2 separate regions of the Homo sapiens genome follow, and region 1 is linked to region 2. The links come from fine-mapping of genetic effects on gene expression. Tissue or cell type: uterus. Region 2 holds a variant in brackets; the other region holds the start of a gene. All regions are shown on one strand. Distances are from middle to middle.

Evidence for each region. PIP is the estimated chance that this variant, and not a neighbour inherited with it, causes the effect.
Region 1: RBM38 starts here. The variant in region 2 is fine-mapped to the expression of RBM38 in uterus (GTEx, PIP above 0.99).

What each region holds. Positions count from the first base shown.
Region 1 is chr20:57,387,049-57,395,139 of GRCh38, forward strand. It overlaps RBM38 (RNA binding motif protein 38), which reads left to right and starts at 4,348. Exons shown (of 4, transcript NM_017495.6): 1 at 4,348-4,770; 2 at 5,606-5,729; 3 at 6,231-6,285. The coding sequence starts at 4,534. RBM38-AS1 (RBM38 antisense RNA 1) reads right to left here and starts at 6,008. Exons shown (of 2, transcript NR_149006.1): 1 at 5,231-6,008. RefSeq lists silencers at 2,041-2,420, 4,031-4,430, 4,781-4,970 and enhancers at 4,065-4,566, 4,567-5,066, 5,821-6,010.
Region 2 is chr20:57,440,592-57,448,682 of GRCh38, forward strand. No RefSeq gene overlaps it. Among named protein-coding and RNA genes, the nearest start is that of RBM38-AS1, 52 kb to the left of the region's middle. RefSeq lists enhancers at 1-3,646, 598-1,457. The variant G/A (reference allele first, on the strand shown) is at 4,952.

The DNA.
Region 1 (8,091 bases), 54 kb before region 2:
GGCTGAACCTTTCCTCTCCCCAGTACCAGTGCCTGCTGGTGCATTTTGGCCTCTGTGCCCAGTAGTATGGGGAAACTTTTTTTTTTTTTGAGATGGAGTCTCACTCTGTCACCCAGGCTGGAGTGCAGTGGTGCAATCTCGGCTCACTGCAACAACCTCTGCCTCCCAGGTTCAAGTGATTCTCCTGCCTCAGCCTCCCGAGTAACTGGGATTACAGGCACGCACCACCACACCCAGCTAATTTTGTATTTTTAGTGGAGACGGGGTTTCACCATGTCGGCCAGGCTGGTCTCGAACTCCTGACCTTAGGTGATCCACCTGCTTCGGCCTCCCAAAGTGCTGGGATTCCCAGGCTCACTGCTCTGCACCTGGCAGATGAAAATGGCAACCTGGGGCTCCCATGGATTCAAAGGAGCTGGGCTGCAGGCTGGGGGTGTACAGGCCACCTGCACCAAGCTCAGCCCAAAGCTGAGTCCCCGAAGAGCCTTGATATAAACACCAACACGACAAACAAAAAGAGGAGGCCCAAGAGCGCGGGGCCTGAAGACTCAAACCAGAGCCCTGCCTGGATGGGGCTGTGCTGTTTCAGATCGCAGTGGCCGGCCTCACCTGCTCCTCTCTGCACATCCTCATCAGGGTAAACTCACTCTCCCTCCTCTGCAGGGCAGCTGGAGCCACAGCTGGGAGCAGAGAGCAGGCCTAGGCCAGGCAGTTCTGCATTTGTGCCCTGCACACATCACACATTTGCGAGGGAGGCAGGAGAGGACCTCTCTGAGCATCAGTTTCCTCAGCTATATAATGGGCATCATCGTAGTCATCTCTTCCTAGGGCTTTTGTGAGATGAACTAAGATAACACACAGAAAGTGCTGGGCTCATCCTCACACTGAGCAGGAATTCTGCGTTCCAAGCTCCTGCAATTTCCATTTTCTCACCCAGCACACACAGTTGCCAGTCCTCCCTCCCGCTCCCCAGTGAGGCCTGAGGGACCCAAGTCACCTCTGCCCAGCCTGGCTCCCAGCCTAGTCTCACAAAACTGTGTTCCCTTTCCAGGGGCCCTTTGTGGGCCATGGAACCCTTGGCAGTCAGCTGATACCTAAGGTAATAGTATTAAACACTTAAAATGCTTACCAGCCAGGCACGGTGGCTCACACTTGTAATCCCGGTGCTTTGGGAGGCGGAGGTGGGAGGGTTGCTTGAGGCTAGGAGTTTGAGACCAGCCTAGACAATAAAGGGAGACCTTGACTCTACAAAAAAAAATTTAAAAAATCAGCTGGGCGCATGCCTGTGGTTCCAGCTACTCGGGAGGCTGAGACTGCAGGGAGCTATGATCACACCACTGCACTCCAGCCCGGACAACACAGCAAGACCCTGTCTTTATAAAAAATAATAATAACAAATAAAATGCTTAGATTAGCAAAGGAAAACAATCACATTAAAATATAGGCTGGGTGTGTTGGCATGCACCTGAAGTCCCAGCTACTCAGGAGGCTGAGGCAAGAGGATCAACTGAGCCCAGGAGTTCTGTATCAGCCTGGGCGACATAGAGAGACCCCATCTCTAATTAAAACAAATAAAAACGGCTATGAAAATATTTAAAAAACAAATATGTGATGTAGCAATGTAGACAAGCAATGTCTTCTTCATCAATGCGTTCAACAACAAGGTCAAGTAGTGGCGCTGATGAGACTGTAGTTTTTTTTTTTTTTTGAGACGGAGTCTTGCTCTGTCGCCCAGGCTGGAGTGCAGTGGTGCACATAAATGTGTGTTTGAGGCTGGGTGCAGTGGCTCAGCCTGTAATCCCAGCAATTTGGGAGGCCAAGTCAGGAAGATTGCCTAATCCCAAGAGTTCGAGACCAGCCTCTACACAAAATATAAAATTATCCCGGCATCGTAGTACGCACCGGTAATCCCAGTTACTTGGGAGGCTGAGGTAGGAGGATGGCTTGGAGCCCGAGAGGTCGAGGCTGCAATGAGCTATGATCGCTACACTCCAGCGACAGGGAGAGACCTTGTCTCAAAAAAAAAAAAAAAAAAAGTGTGTGTTTGGGTGAATGACTGATTGTCAGGCAGAAGCTGGTGACCCGTGGAGACATGGGGCCGCCGGAGGGGGGGAGGGATTGGTGATCCAGATACCCAAGGGGGCCCGGGGGCGGGGGGCGAAGGAGTGCGACTGGACCCGCACCTGGGCAACCGCGTCTCCAGCCTCCACGGCCCTGTCCCGCCCCCTTCCGGGCAGGCAGAGGCCCCGGGGCTGCCCTGCCGCCTGGGCCCGGCCCCCGCGGCAGCAGCCGAGCGGCCGCACCCCTTTGTGGGGCTGTCGTGCCGGGAGGGGCGCGGGCGAGGCGGGCCCGGGCGGCGCTGGGACTTGTAGGCCGGGAGCCCGGGCGCCTCCGGGCTGAAGCCCGTGGCCACGCCACCGACGCGGCTCCAGCCTGCCCAGGCAACGCGACGGCTGGGGACAGCCTTGGAAAAACTGAAGGGGAAACCGAGGCCTGGTGAAGGGATCCAGCTGGCGCAAAAGCACGCGGCCGCGCAGTGGCCGCCTCCCCCGGCCTCTAGGGGGCAAGTGAAGGTCACACTTAAATGAAAGTTTTCAAAGTCGCTTCGAAGGGCCTCCGGCTGGGCCAGAGCTTTCCCCCACCCCACCTTGTTCCATCGTGGATACACTCAACAAACATATCCCAGAGCCCTCTCCTTGCCAGGCCCTCCAGCTTGGGCAAAACATCCCAGGTCCCTGTTCTCGCAGCGCCCAAATAGCAGGGGAGGGGCTCCAGGCAGGCGAACACACAGGGCCGGGGAGGTGGGAAACTCCGCGAAGGAAGGAGAGGAAACCACGCGGGATGAAGGGCAACGGGGGCCGCAAGCGGGGGCAGGAGCGCCAGGAACGAGGAACGAAGGGGGAAGGGAGGAAAGGACGCCCAGGCTTCCGGAAGACTCGGGGGTCCCATCCCCACTGTGCAGAGGGCTAGAGCGGGAGCTGGGGGAGGGAGAGGTCAGAGGTCAAGGCTGCCGCGTGGAGCGTGGGCCGTGGAGTGGGGGAGGGGGCGGGCAGACTCCTCCCCGCCGGCAGCCAGGGCAGAGGGCTGGAGGAAACGCGGAGAACTCCTCGGTGCTGGAGGAAACGAGGGGAACTCCTCGCCGGCCTTGCGGTCCCCCACAGCCCACGGAGTGCCACTCCCAGTCCCCACAGACCCCACCTGCGTCGCCCTGTGCTGAGAGGAGGCCGCAGGGCTGGGGCCGGGAGTGACCCCAATTAGAGCTGCTGTTTCCCAGCTGCATAGGTCCCAACCGCGGGGGCTGGAGATGAGGCGGGCTTGAGGCCCCTAGTCCCGGCTTCAGAGGTGGAGGGTGTGACCCGCAGGTCCGGGATCCCGGGGTCTGTGCAGTCACACGGCCCTTCCCTTCGCTCAGGAAAGCCCGGGGCTGAGTTTCATGCTCAACCGCTGCCAACTTGAAATTCCTAGCTTTTGAATAAGGGGCCCCGCGTTTGCATTTTGCACTGGGCCCCGAAAATTCTGTGGCTGGCCCTGCCTGGTGTGAAGCTCACAGAGCCCCACTATGCGCCGCCTTTCTATGGCTGGGGGCCGGATGAGGGACCCGGGTCTGCTCTTACTCGCCCCAAGGGTCCCTGACACCAGCCCAGAACGGGGTGGAGCTGGAAAGAGCCCACACCTGCTTCCTCTGCCCACCTCATCTCCCGCGGGGCCTCTGAGACCGCCCGGGACCCGCTTCTATCGCGGCACCGTGGTGTAGCTCCCTCCGGGGTCGTATGCTGTATGTTTACTAGCCGAATTCTCAGTCCTGGACGCTCCGTGGGGCCAGGGAATATGATCTGTGCTCCGCTGCAGCCTCGCGCCCAGAGTAAATATCGGTCGGATGAACTAATCTTACATATAAAACAGAAATCATTTCCCTTTTTTAATATGGCACGTGGCTCTTCCCTAAGTCGCCCTGGGTTAAATACCGACTCAATTAACAAGATGCTAAAAACCGTTTACGTTTTTTTACGTTTTTTACGTTTAATTCACCAGACGGTGCGCTCCACGAGGGAAGGGGCCTGGCCTCCCTAGTTCAGGGTTGTGCTTAGTGCCTGCAACCGGCCGGGCCCGCGGGGGCAGCCAGGAGAGAAAGGCGCGCCCAGCGCCCCCAGGCCCGGATCCGCCCTCAGCCCGCGTGCGCTCCCCTCCCCCCTCCCCCCAATCGCCGCGCGCCCGGGTGCGGCTGGGCGGGGTTAGAACTACGCTTCCCGGCGGTCCCCGCGCGCCCGGGGCGGGGCGGGGCCGGCTGGGGGCGGGGCTGAGCTGGCGGGGGCGGCAGGCTACAAAGCCCGGGGGCGGTGCCGGGGCGCAGAGTCCCCGCAGCGCCGGTCGGGAGCGCAGCGCGGCGCACGTCGGCGCGCACGGCGGGACGGGCGCCGGAGTGGTCGGGCCTGGCGGCTGGACGGGCGCCCCTCGCTGCCCCGCGCGCTCCCCGCCGCCCCCCATGAGCGCAGCCCCGCGCGGCCCGGGTCCGTAGGCGGCGGGGCGCCCCCCATGCTGCTGCAGCCCGCGCCGTGCGCCCCGAGCGCGGGCTTCCCGCGGCCCCTGGCCGCCCCCGGCGCCATGCACGGCTCGCAGAAGGACACCACGTTCACCAAGATCTTCGTGGGCGGCCTGCCGTACCACACTACCGACGCCTCGCTCAGGAAGTACTTCGAGGGCTTCGGCGACATCGAGGAGGCCGTGGTCATCACCGACCGCCAGACGGGCAAGTCCCGCGGCTACGGCTTCGTAAGTGGCCCCCGCGCCCGGGCCCGCACCCCGCCGCACACCTTATCGCGGCCCGGGCGCCGAGTCCACTCCGGGGCACACGCCCAGACGGCCCGCTGCCGCCCCCGCCCCAGGCGCCTCCAGCCGGCGCCCGCACCTGCCGCCTCTCCCGGGCGCGCTCCTGCCGGTCCCGCCCCCACCACCCCAGGCCCCGGCCCCCACCCCCACCCCCACCCCCACCCCCACCCCCGGTTTAAAAGGAAGAGCCGCTGTGTTCAATTAGGACTCCTAAGTTGGTGGGGAGGTTTTGGAGCCAGAGGGCACTCGGGATTTCCTGGAGCAGCGGGGGGTGAGGAGCAATGGCTCCACCCCGGGGTGTTAGGAGCTCTTCGGCCTCCCCCATATTTTTAACAGCCCTCTCAGCCGCCCCAAATAAACATCAGCTTAAGTAAAAACGTCTTGAAGACACTTTCCTGCTTACCTTCCAAGCATAGCGTCGCAAACTCCTTCTCAGAGGAAAGTCTCGGCCCTCACTGGTGGGCAAGTCCAGGCGGCCCCCCAAGCTCCCTTCGGGGTTCATTTTTGCCCTATCCCCGCAGGGGATTATTTTTGTCCTTGAAGGCCACATTTCCCAGGCCTTGAACTTTGACGGGAGGAGCTGGAATCCAGGAGGCATCTTTGTGGGAGAGCCCCAGGTAGGGTTCAGAGGAGCTTTGGCTCAAGGACCCTGGGTCACAGGCACCCTCAGAGGAAGGGAAGAGAGGGGTGGCAGCATCCGGTGCCAGGGCGGAGCCGTCTGCCCCTTTCGCCCCTGGTTCCCCCCACGGCAGCCCCTGATGTGTCTCTGCTCCACCAGGTGACCATGGCCGACCGGGCGGCAGCTGAGAGGGCTTGCAAAGACCCGAACCCCATCATCGACGGCCGCAAGGCCAACGTGAACCTGGCATATCTGGGCGCCAAGCCGCGGAGCCTCCAGACGGGTGAGAGCTTGTGTTTTCCTGCCTGGCTCTTCTCGGTTTCTATATTGGGTGTCGGTATCTGTCGGGTGGAAAGAGGCCCCCCCTCCTCGCCCCAGCAGTGGCAGTCGGCTATCATGTGCCTGCAGAGCCGGCACAGGGCAGCCATCCCCCCCTCGAGGATCTAGACCCCTTCTCACAGCGTGTGGCCCAAAGAAGGGGGCGGGGGGCAGGGAGGGTACTGCACCCCAGTTGCCAGCTGTCCTCGCAGGAGGGAGGAAGTGGCCATGGGGCCTGGAGGTTGGGAGTGCCGACACCAGTGGCTGCTGACACCTGCGTCACTCACTGCCACACTTCAGCGGTGTGCCTTGGGGTTCACAAGGGGGAGGCCTGGGAGGGGAGAGGAAGCGGATGATCCCTTTTGACTAGAGGTGTGTGGCTTGTGGGATTCTGCCACCCTGTGTGCAGCCCTTGAGACGTGGCTCGTGCAGCAAGGCCAAGTCCCTGATTGTTCTCTCGTTTTAGGCTTTGCCATTGGGGTGCAGCAGCTGCACCCCACCTTGATCCAGCGGACTTACGGGTGAGTGGACATGGCTGGCTTGGGGTGGGTAGTCCGTGGAGATGAAGTGGAGAGGGCCTTGGGCTTCCTGGGTCTGGAAGGCTGGGGAAATGACAGTTTTCAGACATTTGATTGCGTTTAAGCCAAGGGAGTGAAGAGAAGGCAGATTGCACTTCTCCATCCCTGGCAGAGGCCATACCACCTAGGGGATGGTGAGCCTTGGAGCCTGCCTGCCTTGGTACACACCCCAGCTCCCTTCGCTAGGTGTGTGGCCTCAGTTTCCTCACCCGTAAAATGGGAGTGGTCACAGCACATCTGAGTTCTCTGAATGGAGGGCCTAGGGTGGGCCTGGTGCAGGTAACGCCCTCTTGAAGTGTTTGCTGATGACTCTTAGGGACTGGCAGGCTGAGTTCTTCCCCAGGCACTCCTCTCACCTGTTCTAGTGCTGGGGCAGGTGGTGGCAGTAGGTCATTGCTACCAAGGTCTGATGTTTGTGAACGTTGCTGTAGATACGATGTGTTTGGGGTGGAGGCCACCTGCCTGAGTGGCCTGGCCTATGGGCTTCTAGTCTGACTCATTTACAAGCAGCGCAGCCCACTCTTCTCCATCCTAAAACGCCTCCCACCTCCCTGCCCTTTTTTAAAACATCTAGTAAGTCCTGGCAGCTGCTTGGGGAGGGACACACACACTTAAGGGATACAAAGAGTCCTGCCTTGCGGCCTGCCTCCCCACCCCCATGATGGATGGAAGCTGTCTGCCCTAGCGCCGTGGCATATTGATGGGGTTGGAGTTGGAGGGGAAGGCAGCTCAGAGACCACCACCCCTTTCAGGGCATTGGCACTTCATGAACTTTCTGAATCCAAATCCCTAATGCCAGTTGATCACGTGTGTGTGCTCACGCATGTGCGCACCACGTAGATTCCATTGAGAGAGACACAGCTTGAGGAGTAACCTGCCTGACTGGGGCAGTGTGGACAAGGATCCTGTGGAACCCGGCTGAGCCTGGCTCCCAGGTGAATGGGTCCCCTGGGGCCTGGCTCCCAGGTGAATGGGTCAGAGGCCCCAGCAGAAGTTGCTGTGCCCACTTTTTGGGAACGCTTGGGGTGACTCGGGGGCTCCCTGCCGGCTTCCGTGTGTATTGGTGGATGTGTGCAAGTGTAGCAGTGGGAGGAGCCGCTGGCTGAGGGGTGCTGGAGGGTGGCCGGGGCCCTTCTAGCCTGTGCGAGTGGCCGGGCAGCTCAGGTTCCTGCCGGGGTGCCTCTGTCCTCCTGGGAAGGGAGCGTGTAGGGTGGTGGGAGCAGGCGGCCCTGTCCGTCTCGTCCTGGAATCTGTTTTGTAGATGTCTAGAGTCGTCTTAGAGGGTGTTTGGGGACACTGTAGCCTTCATGCCTTCACCGAGATTCTTCCTATGGGGTTCAGGCCACATGAAGAGGGTGTTCCTTGTTTTCCAGAACCTTGGCTCCATTCCCCAGGCCCACAGCAGGCGCCTGGGGGCATGGACTGGGCGGGAGCAGCTGCCCAGAGGTGAGGGTGTGTGCCTCCAGTGCCTGCAGCTCTTTTCTGCTTACAGTGGGATAAGGCCTTCCCACGTGCGTCTGGGCTCGCTCTGATCCACACAGCTACCTCTGGGACTCCATACCCATCAGTGCTTGGCCTCTGGGGCCTGCAGAGGTGGGTTCGAATCCTGACTTTGCCCCTTACCAGCTGGGTCTGTCTTGGCAGTGGCATCCTCATCCGGAAAACAGGAACATTAACTGCTTAAAACAGTGCACAGGCATGTGGGCTGGGTGCTCTGGCCTCCTCAGAAGTCCTCTCCTGTCCTCATAG
Region 2 (8,091 bases):
AAGTCTGTTCAGTGCACTTGGCCAGCAGCAGGACTCGGGGCCTGGCAGCTCCCCTGATGGCACCCTGGGGGCACTCCTCCCCACTGTTTCCTCCCTGAGGCCTGAGGACCCCATGGGCGGTGGGTGCTGCTCCACGCTCCACACAGACCAGGAAGCCAAGCTTGGGGCCACCCCCACTGCCTTCTCCCGGGCACCACTGCCCACGGCTGGCCTCTCCTCAGGCCACAGGTCTGGCCTGGCTGCCCGAACTCTCAGCCTGGAGGCAGCTGAAGCGTCACATGCCCTTGGCCAGCCGTCTCCGGGGGGGCGGGTTCCCCTCGGGAGACTTCAGCACATTGTCAAAGCTGTCAAACAATTTCCCTGCCAGGTTTTTGCAGGAATCCAAGGCCTCGCTCCCAATGCCAAACACCCTCTTAAGACGATATCTCCGGGGCCTGCAGGCCTGCTCAGCGGCGCTGCCTCTCCTCGGCCTTATATAGTCAAAAGCCGGGGAATCCCTGTCCCACCCTGGGCTGGGATCTGATGGAAGCTGCCACAGCCTTGGCCTGACCCCGGGATCTCCCGCCTCCAAATCGGCCATCTCTGGCCAAGGGGCCGGGTGAGAGGCCTGGCATGCGCACAGGCCTGCGCGGGGCTCTGGGTGTCCCATCAGCTGGCAGCTGGAGCGGCCAGGCCAGCACAGGCTCTTACCAAATAAGGCCTGGGCAGCTGGGCTTGGCCAGGCTCAGACGGCGGCAGCTGGGCCAGCAGTAGCAGGCCTGCCTGTCTCCTCCTCCCGCACTGCCCTGCCTGCCCAGCAAAGACTCTGCAGACTGTGGTCCCCTCGACTCAAGGGAGAGCTCCACCCTAAGAAGCCTGGGTAGACGGTCCCGGATCCCCTGCCAGACGCGCTGCCATGAGGAACCTCTGGCAAATTTCCATTGGGAACCTTGAGGGAAGGCAAGGTGGAGAAACATTCCTAGGACTCCCGCTGCTGCAACGGGAGCCCCGAGCCAGGCCAAGAAATGACCTGTCCCTCCCCCAGGACCCCGCTCCCACTCCTGCATCCCCCAGGGTGTTCCGATTTGGATGTTGCTTGTCCCACCAGTCAGCCCCTTCCTGGTGCCTGGTCTTTGGGGCCAAAGGGCAAGGCTGGCCAAGCGGTTTGGGAAGCGGGCCCGGGCTCAGGAGCACACTGAGGGCCCTTGGGCAGTGACCTGCCCTCCAACTGTGGCTATGATGAGGAAGGCGCATGCGTGCTGGTTGAGGAGGGAAGACCCCCATGACCATGAGCCAGTGTGGGCAGAGGAATGGGCAGGGGGAGGGGCAGGGGGCAGGTCCTCCCTTAGGAGCCACTACGGGGCATGAGGCTCCTGTGTCTGCTCGCCTTGGTTCCAGCCAGCAGCTTTGGCTCTTGGAGCCTCAGTTTTGCTATCCTTAAAATGGGTGTGATACAAACGCTATCTCAGGGTGGCAGCGGGAGTTCAAGGGGACAAGATGCACACCTCTCAGGGCCCTGCAGGGAGTTCCTGGAAGATTGACAGCAGGGCGAGGGAGGGATCTCTCCTTTCCTCGGAGATGGGGGAGGCAAGGGCTCTCTTTCTGTCCCTGACACCCCCTCCTCAGCTCCTCCTGCCCTCCCTGCTGTCTCATTATCTTAGGTGTGATGGGGGCATGGTGAGGCCTCCCAGCCACTCCCAGTGCTGGAAGTGCAGGCGTGGGGTGACCAGCTATTGCACATGTGACTGCATGGCTGTGTGTGTACGCATGTCCCTCCCAACCCCTATTAGCACAACCATGGGAACGTGACCGTGCAGCCCAACAGCCAGGGCGCGGGATACTCGAGAGGGTGGCCCCGGCCTGGGGATGTCTGTGGTTCTGCTGCTGCTCATTTCTGAAGCCCCTTCATGAGTTCTGGGACTCCTGGGGGGATGGGGCCCACTTATGAGTCCCTCAGAGGCATTCAGTGCAAAGTAAAAATGTGGCCCCCCCTCCAAACGTTCAAAAACGACGAAGACTTTTAAGACGACAACAGCAGAGCATTAAACCAACAGGCGGCCCTTCTGAGTGTGAGGGTCCCTCTGCGACTGCACAGGTCACACCCCATGCAGCCGGCCCTGTCCCCTCTGCCCCTCTGCAGCTCAGGTGGGCGGGGCCTGACCACTCCAGCCTGGTCACTCCAGCCTGGCCTTAGACTCTGAGGTGAGTGGTGCCAGGACCTGCCGGTCAGCCTGGATTCATCATAGCCTCTGTTGTCCAGTAGGCTTGGCAAGAAGGGTCTGTGGAAGTTTATAAAAGTGACACCCCCCAGCCCCCAACCTGGGGAGCAGCCAGGAGCCCTATGTCAGAATGTGCGGCCCCTAATGAAAGTGCTCTTCCAGCCACTCTATTTAAGCCAGGTGAGTTTGTTCTCAGGGACTGGAGGCCGGCAAGGTAATGCAGCTGTTTTTAGCGTTTTAGCAGGAGGCAGGTGCTGGCCAGGACGCCTGTGACGCTGTGGGTGACGATGGCCATGACCCGGACACATACAGGTTGGGCAACCTGGGCAGAGCTGGTGTGCCTGGAGGTGGGGCGGGGGGGGTGCCTGGAAGACTGGTGTGGCCTGGATGTCCTGAGAGCGCCAGAACCTCTCCTTGGGGCTCCCTGGGTGGCTACCACCTTTGACTCTTGCCCTAGGGGCACACACTGCCACCTTTCCAGAAAGTTCTCTGGGATCTACAGAAACTGACCACCCATCCAGGTGCTTGAACGTGTCAACTGGTAACTTGCAGCTGTTCTGTTGGAACCTCTGAGATTCCAAGCAGAATTGCTCAGAACCTTCCGGATGCCCCACATGACATCCGCTCCCTCAGGGATAGACAGGGTTCGGCTGCTCATCGGGGTCTCCCAGAGCCTGGAACAGCGCTGTCCTAGAAGCCGTGAACAACCATCCTGCAAAGCTGGAGAAGCAGGGCATTTCCCCGCTGACACGCTCAGGACCAGGAGCTGGTGTGCGTCAAAGTCAGCACCAAGGCCGGTCCATGGCCTGTGAAATACTCGTCCCTCAAGATTGCATTTCAATGGAAAGACTGGCATTTCCCATTCATTCACCTATTTTTTGATGGAGGAAAAAGGTCTTTCTGAGTGGGGTGGGGTGCTCTGCTGCTTGGGGTGGTCCCCTCATCTTCCTTGCATAACCCACATCTCCAGTGTATCTTGTGCCTTTGCAGTTTCTCTTTCTTTGAAATGGAAGAGAGAAAGAATATGCTCCCAGAGACGGTAACTGGAGAGCTTCGGAGCAGACTTTTATACTCTAAAGTAAACTTGTCCTTTTCATTAATTAACTAACAGAGATTTATTTGGTGTGGACCTCACGCCACAGCCTGTGCTGGATGCTGAGAACAGAGGAAAAATGAGCCCAGGGAAATTGTGCCTGAGTGCAGCTAGGTCAGTTTTCTGTTTTACAAATGCAGGAACCAAGGCTCAGAGAGGGTGTGTGAATCACCTAAGGCCACACAGCGCCTGTGTGACAGGCTTTGGCCTGTAAGGGGAAAGCCGGCTAGAAGAGATGAGAAAATGGGGTGTCATTCACCAGCAAAACTGGGTTCAAATCCGCCTCTGGGACCTTGGGTAGGACCGGCCTGCCAAACACAAATGCATATCTGATTGTTCCCCTACCCCATTTTGTCTGTGTTATCTTATGTAAAATGCAGATTCCCCCATCCTTCCTTTATCCCTTTTGTTTATGTGGGTCCCCTCAAGCTTTAAGGGCTGTGCTCTGCTATAAGCTAGCCAACTTCTTGGAGCCTCAGTTTCTCATTTGTCAATGGGAACAATTACTGCTGGTTCCTGCGGTCACTCAGCAAATATTTGTTAAGCACCTACTAGGTGCCATGCAGCATTGTAGGCACTGGGATATAGCTGTGAGCCAAACACCCAGCACAGGGCTGATGTGGGAGCTGATGGGGTGGTGCAGCGGGCCTGGTCTGGGCTCCCTCAGCGAGCCAGGCCCAGGGCGCCCCAGGGCAACAGGGCTGCACTGCAGGTAGACTCAGCTTGGCAGATCCCTGGCCCTGGGGGCCGTCACATGGGGGCCAGGCCAGGGGCGTGTGGGAGCGGAAAGAGGATGGAGGGCAGGAAGGAGGGAGAAAGAGGGAGAAGAGAGGAGGGCACTCTCCTCATCCCCATCCTTCTCCAAAGAAGAAATGACGGCATCGTGCTCTCACCGACTCATCGTCCTAGTAGGTCCTTAGGACACCCAGCAAGCCAGACCTCCGTGTGACAGATGAGGAAACTGAGGCTCAAGGGTGACGTCACTTGCCTAGGATCACAGAATTCCCGAGGGGGATCTAGGCAGTCTCCCTCCACAGCCCAGTCTCTTCCCTTCGGACGCAATAAAAAAAGAGGGAAGGGGAGAGAATGATGGAAGGGGGGAGGAGGGAGGGGCAGCAGGAGGTGTGGGAAGCAGGAGGGGGAAGAGGCCCCTGGGAGGCTTTCTGGGCCCTGCCTTATTTTCCCCTCCCTCCTCCTCCTCCTCCTCTTCCTCCTCCTCCTCCTCCTCCTTCTCCTCCTCCTCCTTCTTTGAGACAGAGTCTCGCTCTGTTGCCCAGGCTGGAGTGCAGTGGCACGATCTCGGCTCACTGCAACCTCTGCCTCCCGGGTTCAAGCAATTCTCCTGCCTCAGCCTCCTGAGTAGCTGGGACTACTCAGCTCATTTTCGTAGTTTCAGTAGAGATGGGGTTTCACCATGTCGACCAGGCTGGTCTCGAACTCCATCCCCGCTTCTCCGGGGGCTTTTGCTCCTAGGGACTCGGGCTCAGCTGAGCTCCTGTGGCAAGTCCTGTGGGACTGGCATGGAAGACTCCTGGGCATGTGGTGGCTATGACTCTTCCCTGATGATGGTGGCCGCACCTTGGGATTGGCTTCTCCTCTCCGAGTCAGGGACCTGGCATTTTTGGCAGCCCTTGGGGGCTATTTTTAAACCTCACAGCTG[G/A]TTTTCATCATGGCTGCTGATAGGTACGTGTAGAAACATTGGCTCTTGCCAGCATTCTGAACAAACCTTGAAAACGAGCAGGGTTGGAGCGGATCAAAGTAGGGGCTCAGGGAAACCTGAAGTGGCAGCCAGTGCTTTGTCCCCACCCAGACCCTTGTAAGGGTAGGAGATGAAAGAGCACGGCTCAGGGGATGAAAGGAGGTGCCAGGGCAGGAGAGAGCCAGGGATTAGGCACGTTCCCTAGAAGATGTAGCTGAATGTTGGGACACAAGAGAAGGGCTCTTTAGCAGCTAGAGCCCTGTTATCCTCATTTTCCTTCTGGGAGGCAGCAAAATACAGAGGTTGAGAGCATGGATTCTGGAGTCCCACAAACCCGACTCCTGCCTTGAGTCCTGACTCAGCCTTTAACAGTTGTGTGACTGTGAGTGTATCAGTTAGCTACTGCTATGTAACAAATCGTCCCAAAACCTAGTTGCTTAAAACATGATTCTATGAGTTGACAATTTAGCCTGAACCATCAGTTGGATGGTTCTGGTGTGGGCTGGCATCCCTCATGCATTTTTGCAGTCAGCTGCCAGGTCTGCAGGAAGCTCTGACTATCATCTAGGGTGATGGGAACAACTGGTCTCTCATTCTCCAGCAGACCGTTCTCCTGATGGAGACAGGGGTCTGAGAGAGAGAGAGAAGAAACCTGCAAGGCAGTTTGGGGTCTTAGATTTGGCACGGTATCACTTCCAGCAATTCTGTTGGCCAAAGCAAGTCACAAGACCAACCTGACTCAAGAGTTTGGAAACCACCTCTGCCTTTTGATGGGAAGAGCTGCAAAACCATTTTGCAAAGGGCGTGGATACAAGGAAGGATGAATTTAGGTCATTTTATACAAATCTGTGTACCACACTGGGTACCTATATACCTCTCTGAGCCTCAGTTTCCTCATTTGTAACATGTGAATGGTTTGGCTTGTCAATCGGAGAAAACGATGAGACAAGTCTCAATCATTTTTGGAGATTTATTTGCCAAAGTTAAGGACGCACCTGGGAGACAGGTCTATGTCTTTCTCTGAAGATGATTTTGGGGGCTCCAAATTTAAAGGAGAAAGGGTGGGATATTGAGAAACACACAGTTTTCACATAAACAAAAGGGATAAAGGAAAGATGGGGGAATCTGCATTTTACATAAGATAACACAGACAAAATGGGGTAGGGGAACAATCAGATATGCACATGGGTCTGGCAGGCAGGGGTGACTGCACCTAAATAAAAGCTATAAATTGTTGTGAGAACTAAATAAGGTGAGGTATGTAAAGTCGCCAGCATAGTGCCTCATGCAGAGTAAGTGTTGATTCCTTGAGAGGAGGCTTACTTCTTGTCACCCCCTACCCCACTATCCCTGTGAAACACGACCTAGGAGGTCAGCTGCTCTCTGGAGAAATGCTGTCTAAAAAGGCAATCTGTAGTTGCAAGAAACCCACCAGGACTGGGAGCCTTTTGGTAAATATTTCTTTCACCCTCTGCTTCAGTGATAGAAACAGTAAGTCCCAGTTAAGCAGGATCAAAGTTTATCAGGCATCAGGACACACTGACTGCTGTCTTTCTGTCCTTCAGGCCATTCAGGTGTCTTCGCTCTTTCATTCAACAACATCAAGCACCTACTGTGTGCCAGGTGCCGTATTAAGTGTAGAGGACAGAGTGGTACTAAAAGACAACACAGTCCTTGCTGCCAAGGAGCCAACAGTTATAATGACAGCAACACACACCAGTTCAGGTCTATGTCCCTGTAATAAGGTAAGAACTTCAGGTCACAATCCAGATAATAAATATGGCATTGGTTTATTGTTCTTACTATCAACAGAATTGTGATTGGATCCTTATCCCACTAGGCTGGGTGGGGAGCTTAATCTCAGGCTGTCTCATATTCTAGTTGCTAATAATAACATCCAAGCCTCCTTAATAGCTCACTTATATTGAGGGGTTACTAAATGCTGGCCCCAGGGCAGGTCTTTCTTTCTTTTTTTTTGAGACAGGGTCTTGCTCATTGACCAGGCTGGAGTGCAGTGGCAAGATCACCTCTCACTGCAGCCTGGACCTCCTAGGCTCAAGCCATCCTCCCACCTCAGCCTCCCAAGTAGCTGGGACTACAGGCATGCACCACCACACCCAGCTAATTTTTTTTTTGAGATGGGGTTTCACCTTATTATCCAGGCTGGTTTTGAATTCCTAGGCTCAAGCCTTCTGCCCACCTCTGCCTCCCGAAGTGTTGGGATTACTGGTGTGAGCAACTGCGCCCGGCTGTAGGTCAGGTCTTTACAAGCATTTCATCCTCTTGCAGCAATCTGATGAAAGCATTTAGGGAGCCCAGGAAGGGAGGCAATGGCGATCTGGAAGGATGAGCTGCTTGTCCTAGGATATACAGCTATGAAGTTTTTAACCGAGGTCTGGTTGGATTAGGGAGGGGACCTCTGCCATGGGGCAGTCATGACAGGTGCGGGGCGCCATCGTCTCCTCCAAGGGTGAGGCGTCTCCTTGAGGTGGGGTTTACCCCATGGTTTCTGTTCTTGGGTGGCAGGGCCCTGAACTCCCGGGTGGGTGTTTCACCCTGGGAGGTGGCAGGGGTAGGGACAGGGTGTCTAAATCTCAGCAGAAACATCAGACGTGGCCACCAAGAATCAGCTAGATCATCCAGAGCAGCAGGCACAGCTTTAAGTGCACACGTCCACAGGCCTGGATGTTGTTTTAACATTTAATTTGGTCCAGCATCAGCCAGCTAAACCTGCTCCTTATCCTCGGCCTGGCTGGCAGCTGCCCTTCAGGGAGCTAAACCGACTCCTGCGAGTGAGCGGCCAGGCCTTTTCGGGAGCCTTCCAGGTGTAACTCTGGGGAGGGTCCACATACCTCAGTCACTCACCCACTTTTCACACCCATGCACACTTACCTGTGTACATTCACAGACACACTCACACACTACTTTTGTTTTTTTTTAGAGATGGGATCTCATCTCACTATGTTGCCAGGCTGGTCTCGAACATCTGGCCTCTAGTGATCCTCCCACCTTGGCCTCCCAAAGTCCTAGGATTTCAGGCGTAAGCCACTATGCCCAGCCACACTTCTACATGCATGCTGCTTCTTGCAATCTCACACACT